Homo sapiens: one gene and its partners. The protein of the gene in region 6 purifies or fractionates together with the protein of the main gene of each other region. This does not show direct contact. Each region holds a gene or a part of one and is shown on either strand. Other genes may lie near its edges. The genes, in order: USP1, CREB3L2, JUP, AMOT, DDX17, WWTR1 and NDFIP1.

Region 1 (4,212 bases), on a different chromosome or scaffold from region 6:
AACTTAGAAAATCTAGTATTCTTAAGTGAGACAAAGACAAAGGGGGAAGGTACTTAATTTGTTCATAAAATTATTGGTTTGTGTGTTTCTTTCTTGACAGGGAAATTGCAAAGAAGATTCTTTGGCAAGTTATGAATTGATATGCAGTTTACAGTCCTTAATCATTTCGGTTGAACAGCTCCAGGCTAGTTTTCTCTTAAATCCAGAGAAATATACTGATGAACTTGCCACTCAGCCAAGGCGACTGCTTAACACACTGAGGTATAGCCTATAATATAATTTTAGGGTTTCAATTTAGCTACTTGTTTATATCCTTGGAGGAGAATGACATGCGAAGAAACAGGAATAAAGGGCAAGGAAAGTAGAAACTCTAGGTCCACAGTCCTTTATATCCCAGAGACTCTGAATACTGGAAATTTTTTTCATAAATTTGGTGCTAAATTCGTTAGATCTGAACATATTATATGAGGCTTTTTATAGTCATTCATATTTATCTCTAACGTGAATATTCATACATGCTTCTATAGAAGTAGTAATGTGTTTAGTTATAGAGTACTCCCATATCAAGTCGGTGATAAATATTTTACTTATATGCCATATAATCATTGAATCTGAAAATGTCTGAATTTCTAAATGCGTGGTCCTAAGGATTTCACATTAAGAATTATAGGACTATATTCAAAATATGTGTAAGAACTGTAAATTCCAAATATTCTATTTTTATATGTGATTAGAGGAGAACTGTTGGCTAACTGGATTAGATTGCTTTTTGGTATTTTCTTAAAAATGAAACTTTACATATAAAATAGCCTTATTCAAATACAATTATAGGGCAAGTCTTTAAAACAATCACTTAAGCATTTAGTTTAAAAATAGAACTAGGTGCAATATATTGCTATACCTTAGTTAAGAGGTATTGTAGGCCGGTCACAGCTCACACTTGTAATCCCAGCACTTTGGGAGGTGAAGGTAGGTGGGTCATTTGAGGTCAGGAGTTCAAGACCAGTGTGGCCAACATGGTGAAACCCTGCCCCTACTAAAAATACAAAAATTAGCTGGGTGTGGTGGTTTGCACCTGTAGTCCCACCTACTCGGGAGACTGAGGCAGGAGAATCGCTTGAACCCGGGAGGCGGCGGTTGCAGTGAGCCAAGATTGCGCCATTGCAGTCCAGTCTGGGCAACAGATCAAGACCCTTGTCTCCAAAAAAAAAAAAAAAAAAAAGGCCATTGTAGCGTGGTGGCCAAGAGCGGGTTTGAATACTGGCTTTTCATCCTAAGTAGTTCTGTGACCTTGGGCAAGTTATTTAACCTGTCTGTGCCTTAGTGCTTGTATCTGTCAGTAATGGTGATAATAGTACCTCATAGGGTTATTGTGAAGATAATGTATACATAGGAGATAAAAAACATTTTGACTAAAACCTGGTGTATGGTAAGCATTATCTAAGTATTAGTTATTAATATATTTAGAAGAGGATCAAAGTATTATAATGAAAATAGGGTACAATTTACTCTTACTTTTAGTTACAGATAAGAAATTCCAAATTAGTGCTGAATAAATGTCTTGACATTTAAAAAATGAAATAATTTATGATTTTCCTTACATGAATTAATTTCTATATAGGCTTTATGTACTGTATCTTCAAAACTAGAATAGATGAAATGGAAATTTTTATTTATAGGGAACTCAACCCTATGTATGAAGGATATCTACAGCATGATGCACAGGAAGTATTACAATGTATTTTGGGAAACATTCAAGAAACATGCCAACTCCTAAAAAAAGAAGAAGTAAAAAATGTGGCAGAATTACCTACTAAGGTAGAAGAAATACCTCATCCGAAAGAGGAAATGAATGGTATTAACAGCATAGAGATGGACAGTATGAGGCATTCTGAAGACTTTAAAGAGAAACTCCCAAAAGGAAATGGGAAAAGAAAAAGTGACACTGAATTTGGTAACATGAAGAAAAAAGTTAAATTATCCAAGGAACACCAGTCATTGGAAGAGAACCAGAGACAAACTAGATCAAAAAGAAAAGCTACAAGTGATACATTAGAGAGTCCTCCTAAAATAATTCCCAAGTATATTTCTGAAAATGAGAGTCCAAGACCCTCACAAAAGAAATCAAGAGTTAAAATAAATTGGTTAAAGTCTGCAACTAAGCAACCCAGCATTCTTTCTAAATTTTGTAGTCTGGGAAAAATAACAACAAACCAAGGAGTCAAAGGACAATCTAAAGAAAATGAATGTGATCCTGAAGAGGACTTGGGGAAGTGTGAAAGTGATAACACAACTAATGGTTGTGGACTTGAATCTCCAGGAAATACTGTTACACCTGTAAATGTTAATGAAGTTAAACCCATAAACAAAGGTTAGTATAATTCTTAGACTTTGATAGGTAGAAGCATTAGCAGCTACAGAATTAGAATTTTCTCTTCCTAGATACATGTACAATATAATCTCTGGCTAAAATTGTTTCAAGAGAAGGAAATTTAACACTGAATGTGAACTATGGTGTTTTAAGTGCTATGCTTAGATTAGTGTGTGTGTATATATTGTATGCATATATATGTGTGTGTGTGTGTGTGTAATGTCATTAAAGTAATTTTAATTTATAGCTTATAAAGTAGGGAAGTTCGGCCAGGTATGTTAGCTCGCACCTGCAATCCCAGTACTTTGGGAGGCCTAGGCGGGCAGATCACCTGCGGTCAGGAGTTCAAGAGCAGCCTGGTCAACATGGTGAAACCCCGTCTCTACTAAAAATGCAAAAATTAGCCAGGCATGGTGGCGCACGCCTGTAGTCCCAGCTACTTGAGAGGCTGAGGCAGGAGAATCGCCTGAACCCGGGAGGTGGAGGTTGCAGTGAGCCAATATTATGCCACTGCACTCCAGCCTGGGGCGACAGAGCAAGACTCCGTCTCAAAAAAAAACAAATAATAATAAAGTAGGGAAGTTCAGTATATTTTAATGTACATTTAAGAGTACATTTCCCTTTATGCAGTGTTTGACATAAACTGATGAAGGACATTGCATTTAGTGAAATTTTAAAAGTAAAGACTAAGTACAGTCATGTGTTGCTTAACAACAGGGATATGTTCTGAGAAATGTGCTGTTTCATTGTGTGAATTTCACGGTGTACTTACACAACTAGATGCTAGAGCGTACTACACAACTAGCCTATATGGTATAGACCAGGGTATCTAATCTTTTGGCTTCCTTGGGCCACACTGGAAGAAGTGTCTTGGGCCACACCACACAGAATACACTAATGATAGCTGATGAGCCAAAAAAAAAAAAATCAAAAAAGTCTCATAATGTTTTAAGAAAGTTTATGAATTTGTTACGGGCTACAGGCAAGCTTTGCATGGCCTATTGCTCCTAGGCAACAAACCTGTATAGCATATAACTACTGAATACTGTAGGCAACTGTAGCACAATGGTATTTGTGTATCTAAGACGTATCTAAGCATAGATATGTAAACATAGGTACAGTAAAAATAATCATAGACTACTGTCATATGCGGTCCATTGTTAAATAATTGAAACGTTGGTAGGTGGTGCATAACTGTAAGTTACACGATACTTGAACTAGATTTTTACCTAGTTTTGTCCAGATCTACAGATATCAGGGAAAATGTGTAATATTGATATAGTGAATAGTTTTACCAAAAATGTCATCCTTATTCTGGGTTTATTCTATGGGGAGGTGTCTGTAGGAAGGGAGTTACAATACAACTGACTTTTTTTTATTTTTTATTTTTTTTATTTTTTTGGAGACAGAGTTTTGCTCTTGTTGCCCAGGCTAGAGTGCAATGGCATGATCTTGGCTCACTGCAACCTCCACCTCCCGGGTTCAAGCGATCCTCCTGCCTCAGCCTCCCGAGTAGCTGTGATTACAGGCATGCACCACCACACCCGGCTAATTTTGTATTTTTACTGGAGACAGGGTTTCTCCATGTTGGTCAGGCTGGTCTTGAACTCCGACCTCAGGTGATCTGCCCGCCTCAGCCTCCCAAAGTCTTGGGATTACAGGCTTAAGCCACTGTGCCCGGCCTACAACTGACTTCTTTTAAAGACAGTAATTTCATAGTCAGTTTTATCTTTACAGGGACCTTAAATTTCATTAATAGGGTACCTCTAATAAGCTAATAATGCTAATAAGCTGATCTATGAAAATGGAACTGTTATTCATGATATACTTTATTTAAATGG
Region 2 (4,212 bases), on a different chromosome or scaffold from region 6:
ATTGCACTCCAGCCTGGGCAACAGAGCAAGACTCTGCCTCAAAAAAAAAAAAAAGCTTTATCCTCCAAAGAAAAACTCTCTTCCAAGAACTACTGTTAATAATTCTAACAAGAATCGGGCATTAAAATATGGATGGTTCAGAATAACCCATCTCAATTCTTTAAAAAAAAATCCCCAAAGCTCTTCGTAATATCAGTAAAGTTCAAATAAACAGATTACACCTACACCAGAATACAGCAACTCAAAAGCAGGCAATTCAACATGAGGTAACTGTAGCTGAGCCCCAGAGCAGCTGTACACACAAGAGGAAAATATGGTACGTGATCTAAGAAGTTACGTCTCACTTTTGAATTGACCTTCCACACAGTCGAAAAGATTAGACCTACCCCCACAGGATGCCACAGAGGGTTTCCCAAGCCAAAGTACAAGCAAAAGTCTAGGCAAAACACAGCTTGCCTCTAATGAGTGACACGGACTGTAGAAGCAGCTGAATCCCAGGAATGACCCATGAGCTCCTCTTGGGTTTACACTGCAAGAGAGCTGAGTCACTCAACATGCCCTGAGATAAATGGGTGCAGCGATAAGAAGGATCAACATCCCAGCTCTTCTTTGAAACACATCAAGAAACACATGAAAATTCAAGGGTTACCCAGCCAGAGCTGTTCTGCTGCTCAGGTGGACCTAGCAGGCTTGAGTCAAACTCCAAAGATCTGCTTTTCGTCAAAAGACAAATAACAAGTATAAAAAACTGAGAACCAGATGCACTGAAGTTTATAGCAGAGCCCAGGGGAACATACAGAGAGAAGAGAAGGCCAAGTACCAAAACACTCACATTTAACAGCTGGTATGGAAGCCAGAAAAGGAGGAAGAACTAAGCTTGCCAGAGTGTCATGGAAGCCAAAGCAAAAACGAGTTATGAGACAATCCTGTGGTCAGTATTGCCAAATAGTCCCATGAGGCCCTGCAGGTAAGGACAGAGAAAAGACTATTGGATTTAGCAGCCAGGGAGAGGTTGAGCAGTAGGACCCAGCGGGCAGAGGATACAGGGTAGAGACTAAGGAAATGGAGGCCATGGCTGGTGACCACGCACTTGAGAAAACCTGGCAGTAAACAAGAGAAAAGAAATGAGTAAGAGGGAGCATCTGGCAAACATGTGTTCAAGGCAGAGGCCTGTGTTTACAGCACAATGTAGGAGCTGGAGAGGAGAGGAAATAAAGATGCATGAGAGAGAATAATGACAGGCTCTCTCCACTTTCTGAATGATGTCAGACTCCTAAGGTTGGGACACCTTGTTCTCAAAGAGAAGACATTTGACTTAGGGGATAGGTTGGAAAAGTACTTCTATTATGGATCAGGCAGTGACATGCAAAGAAACTGAAATCCAAATAGGTGAAGTAATGTACCCAAGGTCACCAGAGAGCCTGTGTCCCTCAACATCAAAATGGCCTGCCTTGAAAGCCCACCCTTTCCACCATGCCATCAACTCCACTCCCACTGGAAACAGGGACTGTTTCAATCACCCCACGCCCACCTTGTTCTCTAATCAAAACAAGAAAAGATATCAACACTGAATTACCCAAGTCACTATTATACTGAATTTTCACATTTGCAAAACCGTTTACAAGAATCCAGAGTTTATTTGTTTGTTTGCTCATTTATTTATTTATTTTGAGACAGGGTCTCACTCTGTTGCCCAGTCCGGAGTATAGAGGCGTGATCACAGCTCACTGTAAACTCAACCTCCTGGGCTCAAGCGATCCTCCTGCCTCAGCCTCTGAAAGCGCTGGGATTACAAGCATGGGCTACCACGTCTTGCCCAGAGTTTTAAAAATATATAAAAACAGGCCAAAGCCACCCAGCTTATCCATTTTCCAGGACTGCCTCACTCTACTTAACTATGCATCAAGCACTTACGATTCTCTGGGCATCCTGCACTTGACTAAGGACCATGAGGGTATAGAAGAGACAGTCATGTCTCCTGTCCTCAAGGAACTTGTGCTGAGCAAATCTCTACTGCTCTATGTCTTACATTCCCCATAGATAAAATGGCCCATCTTCTCCCATGTGCCTCATGAATAACCTATACAATTTGATTCAAGGAAAAATCAAGATCCCTTAGCACTTCATTTAGAAAGGCCAGGGTGCATCCACTGAGCAGGGAAAAAGAGAAATAGGCTCAAGGTTGATCCAGAGACAGTGGGTCTCATTATTTCCTTTCCATCCTGATTCCACAGGGGCAGAAAACAAGGGCAGCACTCCCTCACTCATAAGATCACTCATTTGGACAATTCAGATGCCCTGCAACCATAGGCCTCAATCCTACCAAATGCCCAGCTAAGGCTTAAGGCTATTTACCCCAAGAGAGTCACCAGACAGCGTAGAGCCATGTCAGGCTGAGGCCGGCAGTTTTAGCTGCAGACAGGCACATGTGCCCTCATCAATATTTGAACAGCCATATGCAACTGGAAAAATTGCTTCTTTGAAAAATGGCATTTAGCTTGCCACCTGCTGTCGATCCCAAACAGAACAAATCATTCTTGTCCTGCATGGTAAGCATGATTACAGGCTCAGCTAGCTACCTCCAGCCCTGGTATTCTACTCTGACGCCAAGAGTCCAGATAATACAGTTAATTCTACATCTCCTAGTTAGTGAGTCAAGACATAGCCATAATCTCCTCCTGGCTCCCACCCCTCCCTAGCCTTTCCCTGCACTTTCAAGAGGCTATTTCTACATCTATAGTCTTCTTTCACTGGGCATTGGTAGCACAGCTAAATAATATTCTTAGAACTTTGCTGGGCCGGACGTGATAGCTCATGCCTGTAATCCTAGCACTGTGGGAGGCCGAGGCAGAGGATCCCTTGAGCCCAGGGGTTCAAGACCAGCCTAGGCAACATAAGGAGACCCTGTCTCTATTTAAAAACAAAAAACAAAAGAACTCTGCGAGTGGCACAGTACTTGGGTTTACTGTTTTGCGCCCAGGGCAAATTACTGTGAATTTTAAATTTTCTAGTTGCTAGCCCATGTTCATGAGAAAAGAAACATACCTTTTGACTAAGGAAAGAATTGTTAACTCAGACTATTTTACTAATGATCCCAATGGTCATGCTGGTTGAGTCTCCATCCCCATATGATTAATCTAAGCTGATAATATAAATCCCATTCTCCTTTCCAGCCATTGGCTTAAGAATGGTCATATGACCGAATCCTTACCAATAAAGCTTTAAGAAAAATCAGCTAGTGGGCTAGTAAGAAAAGTTTCTTCCATTCTAAAAAAGGGACACAAGAAAGAGACAACTTCTCTTCTTCCTCTGGATGTTGTCATTTTGAATGTAACCCCTGTAACTCCTATGTCCATCACACATCCAACCTGAGGATGAAAGCTGCACATGGGCAGAACCAAGGTCCATTGAGGAACTGCTGAATCAGCCAACAAGGAGCTCTATTTCTTTTTTTTTCTTTTCTTTCTTTTTTTTTTTTTTTTTTTGAGACAGAATCTCACTCTGTCACCAAGGCTGGAGTGCAGTGGCATGATCTTGGCTCACTGCAACCTCCACCCCCCAGGTTCAAGGGATTCTCCTGCCTCAGCCTCCCGAGTAGCTGGGATTACAGGCGCCCGCCACCACGCCCAGCTAATTTTTGTATTTTTAGTAGAGACAGGGTTTCACCATCTCGGCCAGGCTGCTCTTGAACTCCTGACCTTGTGATCCACCTGCCTTGGCCCCCCAAAGTGCTGGGATTACAGGCGTCAGCCACCGCGCCCGGCCAGGGGCTCTATTTCACAACCTCTTGCAACATGAGATAATTTACTTACTGTATGAGCCGATCTGAATCCATTTTCAGTTACTTCTAGCTGCAAGCACTGTAATTAATTCAATTATTAATCTAGATGCTATATCTTATAACTCCTGCAAAAGCAATGTCACATCAGAGACCCCTGTTTCCCATGAACACTGTAACTCAGGGATCATTCGAGAAGGAGGGCAAATATAAAACTCTGTACTGCCCTCTCATCTTTCAGGACTGTGCCTATGTCTACCACCTCCCAACCAATGTTACTATCATGAGAACAATTTCAGAGACAGTAAAATAATCCGTCAAAGATTTTTTGCTAAGCCAAGGGAAATCCTCTAGATCATAGACAAATTAGCAACACATAAACAAGGCTGCCTTATGAATAAGAGCCACATTATGAAATAATGGAGGGCAGTGAG
Region 3 (4,212 bases), on a different chromosome or scaffold from region 6:
TGGGCTTGAACTGAGCTGGGTTTGAGACCCAGCTCTGTCTCTCATTACCTGAGCCTCAGTGACCTCTTTGGCAAAATGGGAATACTAATACCTATCTACCCAGTAAGTACTTGACAAACGGTAACTCAAGATCAAGGTAAGACTTTACAGAAACCAAGCACTTTCTTTTTTTTTTTTTTTTTTTTTTTTGAGATGGAGTCTCGCTCTGTCACCCAGGCTCACTGCAACCTCCGCCTCCTGGGTTCAAGTGATTCTCCTGCCTCAGCCTCCTGAGTAGCCAGGATTACAGGCGTGTGCCACCACCCCCGGCTGATTTTTGTATTTTTAGTAGAGACAGGGTTTCACCATGTTGCGCAGGCTGGTCTTGATCTCCTGACCTCGTGATTCGCCCGCCCCGGCCTCCCAAAGTGCTGGGATTACAGGCGTGAGCCACCTCACCTGGCCCAAACCAAGCACTTTCATTAACTATTTTTACTTAATCCTTATGGCTGGCCAGGCTGGATGGCTCAGACCTGCAATCCCAGCACGTTAGGAGGCCCAGAAGGGTGGACTGCTTGATTGAGCCCAGGAGTTCCAGACCAGCCTGGGCAACATGGAGAAACCCTGTCTCTACAAAAAAATAGAAAAATTAGCCGGGCGTGGTGGTGCATGCCTGTGGTCCCAGCTACTGGGAATGTTGAGGTGGGAGGATTACCTGAGCCCAGGGAAGTCAAGGCTGCAGTGAGCTGTGTCACTGTATTCCAGCCTGGGCAACAGAGTGAGTCCCTGACTCAAAAAAAAAAAAAAAACAAAAAAAACGCGTATCATTATTCGCATTCTACAGAGGAGGAAATTGAAACTCAAGGAACTTAAGTAATTTCCCCAATGTTGTACAGCGAGACCCAAGCAGCACCAAGACTGACGTTTGGGTCCTCTGATTCCAAGCCCAGAACCCATCCTGCTGTATTGCCCCATGCAGCTCTGGAAAGGATTTTTTTTTTTTTTTTGAGATGGAGTCACGCTCTGCCACCCAGGCTGGAGTGCAGTGGCGCGATCTCGGCTCACTGTAACGTCTACCTCCTGGGTTCAAGCGATTCTCCTGTCTCAGCCTCCCGAGTAGCTGGGATTACAGGCATGCACCACCACACTAGGCTAATTTTTGTATTTTTAGTAGAGATGGGGTTTCACCATGTTGGTCAGGATGGTCTCGAACTCCTGACCTTCAGGAGATCCGCCCGCCTCAGCCTCCCAAAGTGCTGGGATTACAGGTGTGAGCGGAAAGGATTTTTCTGCACCCCCTTTTGAGAGCCTCTGCCTGACTGGGGAGAAGAGAATTCAGAAGGGCCCATGAAGGCATGTGTGAGTGGTGAATGTAGGGCAGGTTTTGTAGGTGGGGGTGATACCTGTCCTGGCCACCAGCCCACTTAAATCTCCCCAGTGGCTTGATTTTTAGTTTCCGGTGGAAGCGGCTTCTCCCCAAGGCCAGGGCTGTGGTGAGTGTTGGGGGGAGGTTGAGAGGGAAAGAGGAGGCAGGGGTCAAAGCTGTGCTGCCTCCTAGCTTGGGTTAGGTAGAACCATGGCTGTTCTGGGCTTGTTCATGTGTAGGAAGTGGGAGTTGCCTGCTTTGCTGGGGGCTGGGGCTATGCCAAGATAAAGGGGTGCTGCCCTGTGGGGATTGGCGAGAAACGAGAGTCCGATTTAGGCCTGGGCTAATGTCCTGCTGGAGTTGACGAGGCAGTGCTGCCAGGCTGCTCTTGATGGGGAACTGGCTGTCCTCTGCTCTGAAGCCCAAGAGACCTGAGATAGGCAGCTGCTGGGAGGGCTTTTCTGGTGATGGAGGTGGGGGTCATGTGTGCTGCCTGTCAGCCAGAGCCTTGGCCCTCTAGGGAGGAGCTGGTGTCAGATTGTTCTCCAGACCTGCCTGGTTCTGGTGTCTCTGCCAACTGGACATCTGACACCAGAATGGGCCTGGATTTGGGGTCTGGGAAATGGGTTCTCTTTATGTGATGGTGCAGCCGGAGTACTGAACCTGTCACTACCGCGCTTCTGGATTCCCTGAGGGCAGGCGGGGACCCCAGGCAACGGGATTATTGATCGTGGAGAAGGCTAATGGGACTTGAGACAGAGAAGAAAACAGAATGAACCCCATCCCACTGACTACTACAAAGAGGGCATGAGGTTGCAGTTTTTCCATCTCCCCCGAGGACTTGAGAGCTGCAGGCCCGATGCACTTACTGAAGGGACGCAGTCTAGACAGGAGGAGGGGCTTTCTGCCTGCTAAAGATGAAATCTTGAGTTGAGAAATAAGAGGGAGAGGTGGAGACTCAGCATTGACTCTTCTCTGATGAGGGCCATCCTGTGCGGCAGGGAGGCCAGACAGGAATTGCTGCCCTTTGGGGAGACTCCTCATTTGTATCTTTTGGGAGAAGAGCGACCTGGCAGTGAGAGGGAAAGGCATCTGTGAGCTGGTCCTGTGACCCCTGTGAAGAGGAAAAGCAAGCAGTGTGGCTGGGCAGGTCACCAGGGCTTGTGTTCCTGCAAGTGACACTGAGCGGCCTCTCCTGGGACATGGTTGAGTCTGGGGACATGGAATATCTTATTGTGAAGCGACTTCCTCTGCCAGGCCTGAAGGGCAAGCTCATGGACCACTCTCCTTTGCTCAGCCTCCTGGCATCTTGGCCTTTGGGGCCAGCAGAGCAGGAAGCTCAGCTTTCTTTTTCTCTTTCTTTCTTTCTTTTTTTTTTTTTGAGATGGAGTCTCTCACTCTGTCACCCAGACTGGAGTGTAGTGGCACAATCTTGGCTCACTGCAACCTCCATCTCCCGGGTTCAGGTGATTCTCCTGTCTCAGCCTCCCGCGTAGCTGGGACTACAAGCGCCTGCCAGTACGCCCAGCTAATTTTTTTTTTTTTTTTTTTTTGAGACGGAGTCTCACTCACTCTGTCGCCCAGGCTGGAGTGCAGTGGCACGATCTCCGCTCGCTGCAAGCTCCGCCCCCTGGGTTCACACCATTCTCCTGCCTTAGCCTCCCGAGTAGCTGGGACTACAGGCGCCCGCCACCACGCCTGGCTAATTTTTTTGTGTTTTTAGTAGAGACGGGGTTTCACTGTGTTTGCCAGGATGGTCTCGATCTCCTGACCTCATGATCCACCCGCCTCGGCCTCCCAAAGTGCTGGGATTACAGGCGTGAGCCACTGTGCCCGGCCTAATTTTTGTATTTTTAGTAGAGACGGGGTTTCACCATATTGGTCAGGCTGGTCTTGAACTCCTGACCTCAGGTGATCCACTCACCTTGGCCTCCCGACATGCTGGGATTATAAGCGTGAGCCACCGCTTTTGGCACTCAGCTTTCTTTCCTCCTCCCTTCTCCTCTTCTCTTTTCTTTCTTTTTTTTTTTTGGTTTGTTTTTTGAGATGGAGTCCTGCTCTGTCGCCCAGGCTGGAGTGCAGTAGTGCAGTCTTGGCTCACTGCAACCTCTGCCTCCTAGGTTCAAGCAATTCTCCTGCCTCATCCTCCTAAGTAGCTGGGACTACAGGCATGCGCCACCATGCCCAGCTAATTTTTGTATTTTTAGTAGAGATGGGGGTGTCACTATGTTGGCCAGGCTGGTCTTGAATTCCTGACCTCAAGTGATCCACCCACCTCAGCCTCCCAAAGTGCTGGGATTACAGGCGTGAGCCACTGCGCCCGGCCTTCTTTCCTTTTTTTGAGGTAGGGACTCGCTCTGTCCCTTAGGCTAGAGTGCAGTGGCGTGATCACAGCTCACTGCATCCTTGAATTCCTGGGTTCAAGCAATCCTCCCGCCCAGCCTCCCAAGTAGCTGGGTCCACAGGTGTGCACCACCATGCCCAGCTAATTTTTAAAGTTTTGTGTAGAGACAGGGTCTTGCTATGTTGCCCAGGCTGGTCTTGGACTCCTGAGCTCAAGCATTTGTCCCATCTCAGCCTCCCAAAGTGCTGGGATTATGGGCATGAGCCACCATGCCCAGCTGAAGCTCAGCTTTCTGTGTCTTTCCCTACCATGGAGACAGTAGCAGGGACCAGAGCAGAGTTGGGACAGGGGCTTGGCAATCAATAAGCTGCTTATTTAGGGGAGACTCCTCCTCTTCCTTGATTGAGAAGGTAATATCTGGCTGGGGCAGTGGCTTACACCTGTAATCCCAACCGCTCTGAAGGTTGAGGCAGGAGGATTGCTTGAGGCCGGGACTTTGAGACCAGCCTGCCAGCCTGTGCAA
Region 4 (4,212 bases), on a different chromosome or scaffold from region 6:
ATCAAGAAAAGAGGAATCAGTTGTATACCCTGTAAACCAATAGTATGATTAGAATTTGAATATTAAATTGTGTTACTAAAATCAGTTTCAGTCAACCCATAGTACCTGTTCAGAAGAATTGATGGTGAGGGAGGGGATATGCTAATCGTATACCCTTTCCAGAAGGATGATCTTTATATTTTTCAATTTCTAAATTTTGTCAGAGGCACACTTCAAATAAAAGAGGCTTCCCCTTTAAGCTTCTACCCAATAACAATAACAGCAAATCTAAATGACTGTTTCTGGAGAGCTGAAAGGCAACTTTGTCAGTAATAAGTATTCCAAGTCCTTCTCTTATTAAGCCAAGGAGCATCCAAAATGGAGACTATGAAAATGATTTTTTAAAAAGATGTTTCAGAGCCTTATGAGATCAGAGAAAAAGATTTGCATCGAGGCAGGGATCATTACTGTCTGGTGCAAGCCAAGCTCTCTTCACCTTTTATTTATTTGAGTCTTTATTTTGCATTTTGTAGCTGCCTTCATATGCTGAGCTGCTTTACAAATCCTGTTATGGGGTAACTTTCCCCACTGTCCTGCCCCCACCTCCACAGCCATAAGATTTGGGTTTTTGCTTTAAATAGAATACAGAGAGATGAAGCCTGTGAATATGGACCTTGAAAAGTTACCCCCTTTGATTACCCTAGTTGACTGTTCCAGGTTTCTCAAGCATTCTTAGGAGTTAAGTCCAGATTGAATATTTAACTCATGCTAAAAGTGAAAGAGAAAACCTAGAGCTCTTATGCCTCCATGTTCTTCATCATATCAGTGCTAGGGCCTGGAATCCCCAACAATCTATTAATTTTAGAGTCAATTCTCTACTTTGTTTCTGCAATCGAATCCTCACCCTCCAATATCCATTTTCTTTCCCTTTAGAGGACTGATTTATCCATCAACTGGGTGTTAAGCTTCCTGTTTCCCCTTCCCAGGTCAAGGGCAGCCCAGGTGCCCAATTTCTCTCTCTCTTCACAAGGCACCACCAGCAATAGAGATGAGAAATTCTGAAGAACAGCCAAGTGGAGGGACCACGGTATTGCAGCGTTTGCTACAAGAGCAGCTTCGCTATGGCAATCCTAGTGAGAATCGCAGCCTGCTTGCCATACACCAGCAAGCCACAGGGAATGGCCCTCCTTTCCCCAGTGGCAGTGGGAACCCGGGCCCTCAGAGTGATGTGTTGAGTCCCCAAGACCACCACCAACAGCTTGTGGCTCATGCTGCTCGACAAGAACCCCAGGGGCAGGAAATCCAGTCAGAAAACCTCATCATGGAGAAGCAGCTGTCTCCTCGAATGCAAAATAATGAAGAACTCCCGACCTATGAAGAAGCCAAGGTCCAGTCCCAGTACTTTCGGGGCCAACAGCATGCCAGTGTTGGAGCTGCCTTCTATGTCACTGGAGTCACCAACCAGAAGATGAGGACTGAGGGACGCCCATCAGTTCAGCGGCTCAATCCTGGAAAGATGCACCAAGATGAGGGACTCAGAGACCTTAAGCAAGGGCATGTCCGTTCCTTGAGTGAACGACTAATGCAGATGTCACTGGCCACCAGTGGAGTTAAGGCCCATCCACCTGTTACCAGTGCTCCCCTCTCCCCACCACAACCCAATGACCTCTACAAGAATCCCACAAGTTCCAGTGAATTCTACAAGGCCCAAGGGCCACTTCCTAACCAGCATAGCCTGAAGGGCATGGAACACCGAGGCCCCCCACCAGAATATCCCTTCAAGGGCATGCCACCCCAATCTGTAGTGTGCAAGCCCCAAGAGCCAGGGCACTTCTATAGTGAGCATCGCCTGAACCAGCCAGGGAGAACAGAGGGGCAACTGATGAGGTATCAGCATCCCCCTGAGTATGGAGCAGCCAGGTAAGAGAGTTCTGTTTCTGTCATTTCCTGACCTCATCCCCAACCAGCTTCTGCTGTGTGTTGGGAATCTTAGGGAAGGAACGGGCAGGTGTTTGATATAACAAACTCTGCAATGCATGACAGGCCTCTGGCTTCGTGAATTGCCTGCCAACCCGAATTTGTATCCTCTTTAGCCATAATTAGCACTGTATTAACAATCCCTTAGCTTTGTAGGTTGAGCATGGCCTCAACTGCCTAGTGGACGAACAGGAGCAAAAGTCTTGTTTTCAGCAGCTATTTGCTGTCCTCTCTCCTAGGATGTTGAAGGGGTCTGTGTTTCTCATAAGCCCTCCTTGAGAGGTAGAAGCAAATTACCTTGCACTTTAATTAGTCTGGAACATCCTATCACTTGCACATATTCCCCTCCATGAAGCTTTCATCATTTATTTTTGCAAACAAATCTGTGTATTTCTTGTCAGTTACCATTTTTCCATAGAATTACCATTATTCTTTTGGACTAAACAAACACCCAGATGTTATGGTGGGGGAGCTATGTATGTATGTAGGTTCAGAATGTTACTTGCCTTATGCTTGCAGTTTATGAAATCTGGACTGTTGTATCTTTTTTTTGTAGAGAATTTATTAGTTGCCTGTCACATTTTTAAACCTCTGAGTTAAATTCCCATCACATCATATAGAAATTTTGGTCAGATGCTAAAATACAGAAGGAAAAATATTACCATTTCTGTCTTATATATTTAGTTGTTCCTATATATACTTCTTAATTATTCAGAGGTCCATTGTCCCACTGCTATATTCACTAGACCTTATGATTCTATGATTCTGTTCATTGTTCCTGTTGTTAGTATTTGGGCCATGTCTCTGATCAGTAGTATTTCCACATATAGGGCAGGAGAAAAGGTTTAAACCATGGGGACCGATGGTGGCATTTAAGTGTGGTATCCTGCCTCATGGCCATGAGTAATGATGGGTGACCATCAGGTTTGAAGTGCTTGGTCCTAGGCTGGCCTTCATTTATATGCGGCTCACAGACTAGGTCTGTGATGTCCTTTGATGTCTACCTCTTTGTCTCCTGTACCCTACTTGCTCATTTTGGAAAAAACCTTCTGGCTTGAAGTTCATTGAGTGACTCAGGAGAGAAGGCAGTCATGGGGTGGAGTAGGGTGAAAGTGAGAGAAGGCACCTAGCATTTCCTGGTATTTCTTTTTTTTCCCCTGCAGGTCCTGTTTTTGTAGCCAGAGGCAATTCACTTTGGACTCCACCTCTAACTTTGCCAGTTTAGGATTTTTTTTTTTTTTTCCCTCTTAACCCAGGTTGATTTCCTAACCCTTTTCAACCTCCTCTGTGCAGCTTTCAAAGGGCAGGAGCCTATGTTCTGATCAGTGTCTTGGAACAGGAAATGGGGTAACCAACAAGGCTACTCAGGTTTAAAAGAGATCAAGAACCAGATTCCCATCTGACCAATGAAACAGAAGACCCAGGGAGGGGTTGGTCTGTTCAAGACTGCCTCACTTAGTGGAAACCCATTCAAGCCAGCAAAATATCAATGAAGCTGGGGGTTTTTATTTTGCTTTTCCCATCAGTATGGAAGAGTCTGTTGATGGGCTGATGTCTGTTGCCTTGTGGGAGGGGAGTGTGTTGGCTGGGGTGTGGAGCAGAAGCCACAGCCCCACTCAGCACACAGCCCGCCTTCCCAGGAAAGCTATTTTCAGAACTCATTCACCAGTATTGTTTGTGATCTGAAATGACTCCCACAGTGTTTGAAGCTAGATGGAAAATTATCTGCCCTTTGATCTGCCTAAATAAATAATGAGGAGCCCAAAGAGGTTTTCTTTTTTTTTCCTTTTCTTCCCATCCTGATTAAACCACCGGAGAAATTTAGCTGCATGTATTTTACAGGAAGATACATATTTTTTATCCTCCCACCTAAGTTATCTGTGGATTTCTCTTTCTTTCTGTCCTCAAAAGCAACAGAGCCCATGATGATCTACCCTTGTTGAGCAGCATTTTAATACACAGTTTTGCTGTAACAGGTTTTTCTCTATGGGAAAGGAGCAGAGTGCTTGATAATGCTTGATGAATAAGCAAACCTAAAATGGCCCTAGTGGGAGGATGCTCCATATGAAATTTGGGTCTGCATCAGGCAAATACTGGCCGTAAAATTGTTGCAGGGCCCTACATGAGGGAGTGGCACCTATTGACAAATTACTGGCAAAAGGAGGTAGTTGAACTGCTTTCCAGAAGTGTACTGCTTTAAGGTGGTGACACATTTTCCCTCCTTTATTTCCTTTAACCAACTAGCTATACAGTTTG
Region 5 (4,212 bases), on a different chromosome or scaffold from region 6:
TTCAAATTAAATGTTTAGTGTAGAATAGAATGTCTTGAATAAATAGCCAGGGAAGTAAGGAGAGAGGAAAAAAAAATACATGAATGATAATCATCAGTTTAAAGCCTTAACAGGAATCTTACTTTCAAGTTTTATTTTTTCCTAAGTCACTAAGGTTTGGGTAGCATTGCAATGTGGCAATAACAATGAAGTCTTTTATAATTTGCAAGAGTGATAATCCAAAGACTTTCTACCTCTTGAAAAGTACCTTATTTAGCTGCTTCATTTGCAAGTGTGGCGGGAGCGGCAATTGAGGTGGCCTTTTGGTCTGTTCAGTATTGAGTCTTAAGCTGAGGGGCATATTAAATATGTCGCTGACACGGGTATCCCTATGCTATGTGCTCTTCCTGTTCTGATTCTTAATTTGTCTTCACTGTCTCAGTAGTGGTATAAATGGAATTAGCCAAGTTCTGCCTGTTGAGTGTAGGTATCCAGTGATCCCAATAAAATCTCCTGCCATCAATTTTTGTTACGTATGTATTTAGAGGAATGTCTGGCTGGTTAAGCCAGAGTTCTAATGGCTTTGAATTGCAGGAAATTGAGGCCCTGTAGAATAATACACCTACTTGCCTATCAATGATAAAGTGGAACTTTATATAAGATGAAGTTACAAGTGGGTTAGAGTGGGAAAAGGGAACTAAATTCAGTACAATATTTTACAAGGAGTAAAGAAACTGAGAAAATGCTATACAGTTTGTATGCCAAACAAAGACCTGTACTTTACAAGATCGAAATAGGGAAAATTAAGGCCATCTTAGTGTTAAGATTCTTCTAGGAAAAGTAGCTTCTGATTTCTTAAATATTAGCTTTGGCTAGTGGTCATATTTGTATTCCTCTTGAGCTTGTCTGTTGTGAAAGGTATATAAAAAGCAAGAAGTTGATCTTAAGTAATTAGTTGAGTGTTAAAGCCTTAAATAAGTCTTGTTAGTGTTTTTTTCTCTGTAAATTAATAATACCATTTGGGAACAAGAAGGAGATAGAAGGTAAAAGTAGAGATCAAAGAAGAAGGAAAGGTCATAAATCTATGTTCAGCTTTTTTTTTTTTTTTTTGACGGACCCTCCCTCTGTCTACCAGGCTGGAGTGCTATGGTGCCATTTCAGCTCACTGCAACCTCCGCCTTCCGAGTTCCAGCGGTTCTCCTGCCTCAGCCTCCCAAGTAGCTAGGGATTACAGGCGTGCACCACCACGCCTGGCTACTCTTTTGTGTTTTTAGTAAGAGACAGGGTTTCACTATATTGGCCAGGCTGGTCTCAAACTCCTGACCTCAAGTGATCCACTGGCCTCCGCCTCCCAAAGTGCTGGGATTACAGGACTGAGCCACTGCCCCCGGCAGGCTCAGCTCTTTTATTAGCGTAAGCTAAAAATGAAGACCAGTCTACCAGTCCTTTCCAAGACCCAGTTTTGCTTTGCAGATAAGCAGACAGGTGGAGTGCTTATCACAGTTTAATAGGGGAGCAGGCCCAAGAAGCTATTCTAAGATTGAGGGACTTGCTTGGAGTGTATCTTCCTTCTTGTCCACAATCTTCCCTTTAATTGAAACTTAACTTAATGTCATCCTTTGCCTGCATGTCTGTTACACAAAAATAGAGACTTGTGTCTGTTTTGTTTAGTAACTCCAGCACAGCACCACTTCAAACAGTAGCCGATACATACTTGGTACCTAGTAACTTGGTACCTAATAACTATTTGTTGAATGAAATGATGCTAACTTGTACTGAGTGCTGGCTATGCCAGATACTTTTATAGTACATTACACATTATTAGGTCATTTTCTCAGCAGCCTCTGAAATAAGTGGTATTATTTCTACTTTGCATAGGAAACTAAGGTGTGTGGAAGTTAAATAATTCTCTTCAAATTATACAGTAAGTGGCAGAATAAAAACTCAAACCATGTCTGGATCCAGAATCTGTGATTGTAATCCCTAGGATGTATTTCTCTCAATAAAGGGATTTTTAATTTTTTGCCTATTGTAGCTATATTCATAAACAGTATTTATTGTTGGGTAGTAAGGGAGGTTTTACACATTTCTCCATACCTTTAAATCACAGCAAATAAAATGGTCTTTTTGGAGGTAGGCTGGTAGTATCCCTAGAACTCCATCCTTTTTGAATATTCTTATGGCATGTACGATACGTTGCTTTAAAAATACTGATGAACTAACTAAAAATTCTGTTCCTAGATTTGGAGCAAGAGGTGGTGGTGGCCTTCCCCCGAAGAAATTTGGTAATCCTGGGGAGCGTTTGCGTAAAAAAAAGTGGGATTTGAGTGAGCTCCCCAAGTTTGAGAAAAATTTTTATGTGGAACATCCGGAAGTAGCAAGGCTGACACCAGTAAGTTTACATGTGTGTTTTAATGTACAGATTATTGAACCAAGTAGATATATTGGTTAGAGTTTATTCATACGCTACTGTTGCCGTTTTACATTTTATTCTAGTGTGGTGATATTTTTCTTAAAAAATTTTTTGGTTAATTTTTTTTTTTTTTTCCTTTTTGTAGAGACCGGGTTTCGCCATATTCCCCAGGCTGGTCTTGAACTCCCTAGCTCAAGCAAACTACCTGCCTCAGCTTTTCAAAGTGCTAGGATTACAGGCGTGAGCCACTGCACCCAGCTGATTTTTTTTTTTTTTTTTTTTTTTTTTTTTGAGACGGAGTTTTGCTCTTGTTGCCCAGGCTAGAGTGCAATGGTGTGATCTTGGCTCACTGCAACCTCCGCCTCCTGGGTTCAAGCGATTCTACTGCCTCAGCCTCCCAGGTAGCTGGGATCACAGGCACCCGCCACCATGCCCGGCTAATTTTTTGTATTTTTAGCAGAGATGGAGTTTCACTATGTTGGGCAGGCTGGTCTCAAACTCCGGACCTCGGACCTCAGGTGATCGACCTGCCTCAGCCTCTCAAAGTGCTGGGATTACAGGCGTGAGCCACCACGCCCAGCCTCTTTTTATTTTTGAGACGGAATCTTGCTCTGTCACCCAGGCTGGAGTGCAAGAGTCAGGGTTTCACCATGTTGATCAGACTGGTCTCCGTCTCCTGACCTTGTGATCTGCCCGCCTCAGCCTCCCAAAGTGCTGGGATTATGGGTGTGAGCCACCATGCCCAGCCTTTCTTACATTCTTATCTAAGACCCCTAATACTCATAAAAGGGGACCAGTTTAAATATGCATTTAATTTGTTCTCTTGTTGATAATGCTTACTAATCTGTTTATTATACATGATTGAAATATTGTATATTAGGTCATGTTTTTTCATCTGTTAGTGAAAAAGATAGATTGGCTTTTTTTTTTTTTGAGGTGAAGTCTCACTCTGTCCCCTAGGCTAGAGTGCTGTGGCATGATCTTGGCTCACTGCAACCTCTGCCTCCCAGGTTCAAGCAATTCTCCCACCTCAGCCTCCCGAGTAGCTGGGATTACAGACATGTGCCACCACGCCTGGTTCATTTATTATTTATTTTTTTTTTTTCAGTAGAGACGGAGTTTCACCATGTTGGCCAGGCTGGTCTCAAACTCCTGACCTCAAGTGATCCACCCACCTCAGCCTCCCAAAGTGCTGGGATTACAGGTGGGAGCCACCGTGCCCAGCCAACATTGTCTCTTCTTGTACCTCATTACCATTGTTTTTTGGACTCTACACATGAAATGGTTACTCTTTCAGAAGAAAGTGTAATGGAAAGAGTACTTGGGTCCAAGTTCCACTTTTTTTTCCTTCTCATTCTGACCTTGAGCAAGTTACTTATCTTTTTTCTCCTATAGAAAATGGAACTCTTAATCACCTACATCATTAATTAACTTACAAAGTAAGTAGGAGCCTTGCAGAGTTAAAGTGATACACATGAAAGTACCATGTAAACTATTAAATATTTGCCAACATAGCTGTGGACTGGATAATTGCTCAGCTAGCTTGGAACATAAATTCTGAATGTTTAGAATAACTAGTTTACTAACTTCTTTCATTTTTTTTCAATAGTATGAGGTTGATGAGCTACGCCGAAAGAAGGAGATTACAGTGAGGGGGGGAGATGTTTGTCCTAAACCCGTGTTTGCCTTCCATCATGCTAACTTCCCACGTAAGTGTTCTTCAATCTAGAACCTTAATTTGTTAAATTGGGTTGAATGGGAGACAAGGGTAGTAGGTTAAACTCTTTGAGCCAGGCTTGGGGTTTTGTTGAAAGGACAAG
Region 6 (4,212 bases):
ACTTACAATGGGTTTGTGTTTTTTAAATGATCTCTTCGGTTATCTCAATTTTATTTTTCTTTTATTTTATTTTTATAATTTCAACTTTTATTTTATATTTGGGGGTACATGTGCAGGTTTGCTACATGGTTATGTGATGCCGGGGTTTGGGATACGATTGCTCTCGTCACCCAGGTAGTGAGCATAGTACCCAATAGTTTGTTTTTCACCCCTTGTTCCTCCCCACTCCCAGTAGTCCCGAGTGTCTGTAAAAATGTTGAAAAAAAAAAAAATGGAATGCTTCATGAATTTACATGTCATTCTCATGCAGGGGCCATGCTAATCATTCCAGTTTTAGTATAGGTGCTGCCAGAGCGAGTACGGTCATCTCAATTTTAAAATCCAACCAGAAACACTCAATCTCAACGACAACATAAAATAACAGCTGAAAAGCCACTGAACCCCCAGGCACTATTAATAAACTGTAGCCCCTTCCTCATAGATTATACAAGTATAGTTTTACATCTGGGCGCAGGATTTTAAATTCTGTTGTTTTTTTTTTTTAATTCATCTTTGCTCCATATAGTCCCTTCCTCACAATTGCATCAAGACACCACTGTTTGTTTGCCATGTTTCCACATTGGGGTATTTATGCTGTTCTAGTTTTTAGTTGTAATATATGGGCCACCCTTTCTCCTGGAAAGTGACACTGGTTTATAGTTCTAGTATCCAATTTTTTTCATGTCATTCACTGCATTTGAAAAGCAATTGGCAGTGGGTATTTGGAATGCTGAGCAACTCAGAGGATTCAAAATTGTCACTTCCAAGTTCCAACATGGTAACGACATCCTCCCTCAGGAATTAAAGAGAAGAGAGTCAGGGTTACTCTTACCTTGTCCCCAGCCTGTGCATCCTTCAGGTCCAGCCTCACCAGGCTTCCCGATTACCTTTCTTTTTCTCCTTTTCTCAAGGAGTGAGACTTCCAATTGCAGAAACTGAAGTTAGTCTTATTAGCCTTACCTAGACTTAATTATGAAAGTCATAAACTCTAAGAAGATATTCTAGAACCAAAAATAAATGACAGCCAGGGTGTCCACTATTTGGAGTTATTCATGAAAGTTCCTTCTCCATTATCATTGACGAAAGTAATTGTTTTGTGTTGAAAATAAAAAATTCCTTCCCCCAAAGTGTTTGCCATAGTGCCTGTAGTTTTTTACACTCTACTCTTTGATGGCTTCTCTTTGTGTTGTGAGTCTAAATTGTTGGAAAGATCAAGAGTCAAACTCATAGCCAGGTGTCTTACAAATGCAGTACATTAAAGCTGCTCCCCTGGCGTCTTTCGTGTAGGTTGTCATCTTTGCATTGAGAAGATTGCAAAGACTATCTTGTGAGGAGTGACACAGGAATAGTTTGCACTGATTGTTTTACTGTTCTTCAGTTTATTACTTCAGTTCTTCCCCCACCACCACCCCCTGCCACCTTTATCTCTCTCTCTGCTTTTTGAGTGTGAGATTTATTTTGCTATCTTTGGAATAGCCTTAGGAAGTGGCTCCTTCCTATGTTTAATAATTCTTTACTTTCATCTTCTAAACACTGGGAAGCCAGTAAGGATAAAAAGCAAAGTTAAGGAAAAAAGCTCAGGAGATCTAAATCTAAGTTTGACATTCAAAAAAAAAAAAAAAAAACCATAAAAGAGGATGGATTCTACTCTATGTCTCTTTAAAATAACCTCAAGTGGGTAAGTAGGGAGTGTTTTATTTTGAAGCCGTAATGTGGAATTAAATGACGTCCTGAAAAGAACATAGTTTTAGCCAACAGGCAGCCTGATTTGAATCCTTGCTTCTCCATTCCTAGTAGCGCCTTTGGGTAAGTTGCATAACCTCCGTGAGCCTCAGATTTCTCACCCATAAAGTGGGAGTGATATGCTCACGGCAGAGTTGTGAGGAGTCATGAGATCACAGAGACCAGCTCAAAGTGCTCTTCTCCAGTAAGAAGACTGATGTCATACATACAATGGACTTGATAATGTCAGAGTGCCACGTTAACCTGGTTAAGTGAGAATCAGCTCATTGAGTGTGGGAATGTGAGTGCCAAGTTAACCTGGTTAAGTTAGAGTCAGCTCATTGAGTGTGGGGCCACCTCTGTGAAGTCTTTGTAGGAACTGGACATACATCTTCTCAAGGGGAGAAATGTTAATTATACAGTAGCAAAATGAGGGAAGCTGTGGGGGCAGGCAGAGCTCAAGTGTGGCTAGAAAAGATCTATCAGGCCTGTGGACCACGCGCTGGCCACATGCTGAAGGGAAACGAGCCAGCTGAGCACTCCATTTGCAAAACATACATGGCAGCAACAGCTGGGCTTGGTGCGAAGATCCAGTAAAGGGAATAACATGAGCAAAGGCTGGGAAATCATCCATCCTTCCAGAATATTCTGCAGTAATCACACCCTTTTAAGAATTGCCTTGTGGCTGGGCACGGTGGTTCACACCTGTAATCCCAGCACTTTGGTAGGCCGAGGTGGGTGGATCACCTGAGGTTGGGAGTTCAAGACCAGCCTGACCAACATGGAGAAATCTTGTGTCTACTAAGAATACAAAATTAGCTGGGCGTGGTGGCACATGCCTGTGATCCCAGCCACTCGGGAAGCTGAGGCAGGAGAATCACTTGAACCCAGGAGGCGGAGGTTGCAGTGAGCCGAGATTGTGCCATTGCACTCTAGCTTGGGCAGCAAGAGCGAAACTCCATCTCAAAAAAAAAAAAAAGAATTGCCTTGTGTTTGTCTCTTCCACTTTTTAAGTGGATAAACTGCAAAGACCAAAAAGATTACTATGAGATTGCAGAGCTGCTTCTATTTTAAGATTGTTAACTTTAATGAAGAAGCTTAGCCAGTATCCTCATGCCTTCCATCCTGAGAAGAAAGGATAAGAGTAATTTTTTTTTTTTTTTTTAATACGGGGTCTCATTCTGTCACCCAGGCTGGAGTGCAGTGGTGTGATCTCAGCTCATTGCAACCTCTACCTCCTGGATTCAAACGAGTCTCGGGCCTCAGCCTCCTGAGTAGCTGGGATTACAGGGGTGCGCCACCATGCCTGGCACTGTTTTTTTGGGGTTTTTTTGTTTGTTTGTTTGTTGTATTTTTAGTAGAGACAGGGTTTCACCATGTTGGCAAGGCTGTTCTTGAACTCCTGACCTCAGGTGATCCACCCACCTCGGCCTCCCAAAGTGCTGGGATTACAGGCATGAGCCACCACACCCGGCCTAGGAATTCTTTAAAACAGAGATTTTGCTTGGCTAAAAATTATATTCTTGAGTATCTGAAAGTTAAAATGGGAAATTAGTAAAAATGAATGATTCTAACTGGAGATGAAGAGAAAAAAAGGCATCCAGCACATTAGATCAGATTGTTTTTTAGACACTTTTTAAAGCCTCATTTTTATCTGTTACACTCTAGTAAGTAGAAGAAAGTTATTTTGGATTTTGTTTTTTCGTTTAACGTTATTTTTCAATATCAGTAACACTATATTGAGGTCATATTGTTGAATTTGATTTAATTTTTCAGTTTACTACCCTTTGCAATGAAAATACTGTAAAATGTTACCCAGGAGTCATTTATATTTTGTGACTTCTAGAAAAGCCATTGTGTTTTGCTATCACCAAAATCCAAATTGGATGATGGTTCCTTCATCATTTGGAAGGATATAATTTTTCTCCCTGGAAAACACAGATTGCTAAAGTGAACTTTCGGCAATTTTGCTTAAAATAGTGAAACTTCCCTACACACGTTTCAGGAAGGCTACTGCACTTGTAACACACAAAAGATAATTTAACAAGTTTTTAAAAAATGACGTTATGGTGGAAGCTGGCCTTAGTTATCAATGCTTCTCAATTTTTGAAGTAGATATTATCTCTTCAGAAAATTGTTTGGGACTTTTTGAATTAACCTGTTGTTTTGATATTGTGTAATTAATAGTGGCTGAAGACCTGGGTTTTTCTTTCTCTCAGGACAATGAACATTTATTATATTTTTGTATGTATATAACTTTGTATATATCAATGACACCCAGAGCCATGGATATGTGGCAGACACTATATGGCACTTTACTCTAACTTTTGTAAAAGGAGCATATGATCCCAATTTCTAGATGGGTAAACTGAGAATCAGGCAGGTTAAGTGTGTCTAAGCTTACACAGCCACAAAGCTCGATCTAATGACACCAAAGTCAGTAGTGCATTC
Region 7 (4,212 bases), on a different chromosome or scaffold from region 6:
TCCTTTGTATTGATTGGGCTCACTCTTGCCAAGCCTCATGCTTTGTTTTTGTAGCAGTGATAGATTCCTGTTAATCTATCCTTGTTTTCTTACCTGATCCCATGGGTGACCACTTGTTAGGCAAGATTTATTTGGCTTAATCATACTATCTGTGTCCTGAAAATAGGGCAGTGCTTCCTGGTTTGGGCAGAAACCAAGGCCCAGTTGAACTGCTCTAGGGAATTTTGCTCTAAGCTGATGCCACCAGTAGTTTAACTGCACATAACTTCAAATTGTTTTATCCTAGACATTAATTATATTTCATAATTTTATGGTAGATTATAAAGTAAATCCTACCATGAGAATAACTTCATATTTTTATTAAGAAAGAAAAAAAGTCTCCAAGAGATTCAAGTGACATCCTCAGATTTATTTGTTTTTAGGGCTTTAAAATAATTATTTTGGTTTCTTAAAATGTTCTTGTTTTACCTTTAAGCAAGTACAACAGCTTAGAAGAATTATATTCTTTTTTGTTTGTTTGTTTTGAGATGGAGTGTCTTTCTTCTTGCTCAGGCTGGAAGGCAATGGCGCGATCTCGGCTCACTGCAACCTCCGCCTCCCAGGTTCAAGCGATTCTCCTGCCTCAGCCTCCTGAGTAGCTGGGATTACAGGTGCCCACCACCACGCCCAGCTAATTTTTTGTATTTTTCGTAGAGATGGGGTTTCACCATGTTGGCCAGGCTGGTCTTGAACTCCTGACCTCAAGTGATCTGCCCGCCTCGGTCTCCCAAAGTGCTGGGATTACAGGTGTGAGCCACTGCGCCCGGCCTATATTCTTATAATAATGGACAATTTAGATAAAGCAACTTTAATACTTCTGTTCCATTCATACTGAAAATTGGCATGATGGTTTATCTTTTTTTCAAGTCATTGTTGCCAATAAGCTAGGCAACTGGCAAACATCATGTATGAAATTTTTTGGGCTTGACATACTTTCCAGTGGTAATTGCTTCTAGTGGTTGGCTAGGTGGGGGTATGAGTTAGAGTAGGCTCTGGGTATCCACAGGTTCTACATTCGCAGATTCAACCAACTGCAGATTGAAAATAGGGGAAAATAACCATACAATAATAAATAATAGTGCAAGTAAAATATACACTATAACAGCTATTTTACATAGCATTTACATTGTATTAAGTGTTATAAGTAAAGATGATTTAAAGTACATGAGGTAGGTTATGTGTAAATACTATACCATTTTATGTCAGAGGCTTGTGCATCCTCCCATTTTGGTATCTGTGGGGAGTCCTGGAACCAATTCCCAGTGGATACTGAGGGATGACTGTATGATATGTCTTGTTAACTTGACCAAGAGTGGTAGTAAAGCAAGTGTAACTTGATATCACTTAGCACATCCTGCTGTTACAATAAGGCTTACTCATGATTTTTCTGAATAACATAATTTATATTAAATGTCCTAAATACTAGCACTGATCAAGTTTAAGAGCATTCCTAGTGAAATATTTTCTTATTAATGCAGTTCCCTTCATATGTATATTTATTTATTTATTTCCTTCCTTCCTTCCTTCCTTCCTTCTTTCTCTCTCTCTCTCTCTCTCTTTCTTTCTTTCTTTCAACAGAGTCTTGCTCTGTTCCCCAGGCTGGAGTGCAGTGGCGCAATCTTGGCACACTGCAACCCCTGCCTTCCAGTTTGAAGCCATTCTCCTGCCTCAGCCTCTGGAGTAGCTGGGACTACAGGTGCCCGCCAGCAGGCCCGGCTAATTTTTGTATTTTTAGTAGAGGTGGGGTTTCACCATGTTGGCCAGGCTAGTCTCGAACTCCTGACTTCAAATGATCTACCCACCTTGGCTTACAGAGATTACAGGTGTGAGCCACCATGCCCAGGCTACCTTCATATGTATTTTTCTTTTCTCTTCTCTCCTCTTCTTTTTTATTTATTTATTTATTTATTTTTGAGACAGGGTCTGGTTCTGTCACCTAGGCTGTAGTGCAGTGGTGAGAGCTCTGCTCACTGCAATCTCCGCCTCCTGGGTTCAAGAGATTCTCGTGCCTCAGCTTCCCAAGTAGCTGGTGTTACAGGTGCATGCCACCACGCCTGGCTAATTTTTGTATTTTTAGTAGAGATGGGGTTTCACCACGTTGCCCAGGCTGGTCTCGAACTCCTGGCCTTAAGTGATCTGCCCATCTCTGCCTCCCAAAGTGCTGGGATTACAGGCATGAGCCACCGTGCCCGGCCCATATGTATAATATATTTCTTATCCCCCTCCCCGAGCAATTTAGCATAATCTTTGACCATTTTTCTGTTTTTGTCTTTTAAATTAGTTTATCTCAGCAATATTAATTAGTACTTACCATAATCAAAGGCTTGAATACAATTTGGAGGTCTATCTGGAGACTGGACAATTTATGAATAGAGATATAAGGGTTTAGGGAGTGGTGCCTGTTTAATAATGATTTCATTTTCTTTTTTTGCTTTTTTTTTTTTTTTGAGACGGAGTCTCACTCTGTCGCCAGGCTGGAGTGCAGTGGCGAAATCTCAGCTCACTGCAACCTCCGCCTCCTGGGCTCAAGTGATTCTCCTGCCTCAGTCTCCTGAGTAGCTGGGACTACAGGCGCCCGCTATCACGCCCAGCTAATTTTTTCTATTTTTAGCAGAGGGGGTTTCACCATGTTGGCCAAGATGGTCTCGATCTCTTGACCTCGTGATCCACCCGCCTCCATCTCCCAAAGTGCTGGGATTACAGGTGTGAGCCACTGCGCCTGGCCGATTTCATTTTATCATTCGATGCTTAAATGTGATATTTAAAATTAAGCATTTTGTATTAAATAGTAATACATTCTTCATGTGCTAGATTCAAACAGTAACTTTCTAAAGAAAAACTTGATTTCCCTTTCCTCCCTATCTCTTTGCAGAGCTGTAACTGCTCCTCAAGTTTGGTGTGTGTTCTACAGGCTTTTTTTTTTTTTTTTTTGAGACAGGGCCTCACTCTGCACCCAGGCTGGAGTGCAGCCACATAGTCTCGGCTCACTGCAACCCTCCATCTTCAGGCTTTCTTCTTAACCTTTCCTTGGCTTTAAATGTTTTTTAAATAAATCTGTACTTTCAAATAGACTTTACTTTTTGGAACTTTTTTCCCCCTAAGATGGGTTCCTGCTATGTTGCTACCCAGGCTGGCGTCAAACTCCTTGGCTCAAGCGATCATTCCCCCACTGACCTCCCAAGTAGCTGGGACCACAGGCACACGCCAGCACACCCAGCTGAAACATTTTTAATTTTTCAGAAACACTGAGAAGACAGTAGAGAGTTTCCATATGCCCTATGCCCAGCTTTCCCTATTAGCATCTTATATCAGTATGGTACGGTTTTCACAATTATTGAACCAATATTAGTACATTGTTATCAATTAAAGTCTGTACTTTGTTCAGATTTTCTAAGTTTTTACCTAATGTCCTTTTTCTGTTCCAGGATCCCATCCAGGATCCAGGATGATATAATGTGGTAATGTTACATTTAGTCGTCCTGTCTCCTTAGGCTCTTCTTGGCTGTGAGTTTCTCAAACTTTCCTTGTTTTTGATGAGCTTGACAGTTTTGAGGAGTATTGGTCAGGTCTTTGTAGAATGTCCCTCAATTGGGGTTTGTTTGATGTTTTTCTCATGATTAGACTGGGGCTGTGGATTTGGGGGAAGACCACAGGTAAAGTGCTGTTCTCATCACATCATATCAAGAATGCACACTTTCAACATGACTTATCATTGTTGACATTGACCTTGATCACCTGGCTGAGGTAGTGTTTCTCAGGTTTCTCTTCTGTAAAGATACGTTTTACCCCACTTTCCATACTTACTCTTGGGAAGGAAGTCACTATGCATGGTCCACACATAAGGAGTGGGGAGTTATGTAACACCTCGCTGAGGGCCAAGTATTGACATGAATTATTTGGAATTTCCTGCATGGGGCATTTGTCTCTGCTCTGATAATTTGTTTAGTATTTATATCTGTATAGACTCATAAATATTTATTTTATTCTTCCAATTATCCAATAACTGCTTTATTTTATTGCTTAAATTGCATACCTCCATCATTGTGGATTTTTTTTTAACCACTTCCATACTTTTTGGCACTAGGCTCATCTTATATATTTCCTGCACTATCCTAGAATCAGGCATTTTTCCAAGGAGCCTAGGTTCCTTTTATTGAAAAATAATACTACAAA

Evidence for each region.
Region 1: the proteins of WWTR1 (region 6) and USP1 purify together in Homo sapiens (affinity purification with western blotting; one study listed by BioGRID). This does not show direct contact.
Region 2: the proteins of WWTR1 (region 6) and CREB3L2 purify together in Homo sapiens (co-immunoprecipitation; one large-scale study listed by IntAct). This does not show direct contact.
Region 3: the proteins of WWTR1 (region 6) and JUP purify together in Homo sapiens (co-immunoprecipitation; one study listed by IntAct). This does not show direct contact.
Region 4: the proteins of WWTR1 (region 6) and AMOT purify together in Homo sapiens (affinity purification with mass spectrometry; 3 studies listed by BioGRID and IntAct, with this or other methods). This does not show direct contact.
Region 5: the proteins of WWTR1 (region 6) and DDX17 purify together in Homo sapiens (co-immunoprecipitation; one study listed by IntAct). This does not show direct contact.
Region 7: the proteins of WWTR1 (region 6) and NDFIP1 purify together in Homo sapiens (affinity purification with western blotting; one study listed by BioGRID). This does not show direct contact.

The regions. Positions count from the first base shown.
Region 1 is NC_000001.11:62,443,059-62,447,270, forward strand, and holds part of USP1 (ubiquitin carboxyl-terminal hydrolase 1), read left to right. Parts: intron 1-100; coding exon 101-261; intron 262-1,679; coding exon 1,680-2,371; intron 2,372-4,212. UniProt on the Homo sapiens protein: Negative regulator of DNA damage repair which specifically deubiquitinates monoubiquitinated FANCD2. Also involved in PCNA-mediated translesion synthesis (TLS) by deubiquitinating monoubiquitinated PCNA.
Region 2 is NC_000007.14:137,991,868-137,996,079, forward strand, and holds part of CREB3L2 (cyclic AMP-responsive element-binding protein 3-like protein 2), read right to left. Parts: intron 1-4,212. UniProt on the Homo sapiens protein: Transcription factor involved in unfolded protein response (UPR).
Region 3 is NC_000017.11:41,779,871-41,784,082, reverse strand, and holds part of JUP (junction plakoglobin), read left to right. Parts: exon of another isoform or gene 1-102; intron 103-4,212. UniProt on the Homo sapiens protein: Common junctional plaque protein. The membrane-associated plaques are architectural elements in an important strategic position to influence the arrangement and function of both the cytoskeleton and the cells within the tissue.
Region 4 is NC_000023.11:112,819,942-112,824,153, reverse strand, and holds part of AMOT (angiomotin), read left to right. Parts: intron 1-965; 5' UTR 966-1,027; coding exon 1,028-1,899; intron 1,900-4,212.
Region 5 is NC_000022.11:38,499,289-38,503,500, reverse strand, and holds part of DDX17 (probable ATP-dependent RNA helicase DDX17 isoform 1 precursor), read left to right. Parts: intron 1-2,220; coding exon 2,221-2,371; intron 2,372-4,001; coding exon 4,002-4,101; intron 4,102-4,212. UniProt on the Homo sapiens protein: As an RNA helicase, unwinds RNA and alters RNA structures through ATP binding and hydrolysis.
Region 6 is NC_000003.12:149,521,780-149,525,991, reverse strand, and holds part of WWTR1 (WW domain-containing transcription regulator protein 1), read left to right. Parts: intron 1-4,212. UniProt on the Homo sapiens protein: Transcriptional coactivator which acts as a downstream regulatory target in the Hippo signaling pathway that plays a pivotal role in organ size control and tumor suppression by restricting proliferation and promoting apoptosis.
Region 7 is NC_000005.10:142,114,777-142,118,988, forward strand, and holds part of NDFIP1 (NEDD4 family-interacting protein 1), read left to right. Parts: intron 1-4,212. UniProt on the Homo sapiens protein: Activates HECT domain-containing E3 ubiquitin-protein ligases, including NEDD4 and ITCH, and consequently modulates the stability of their targets. As a result, controls many cellular processes.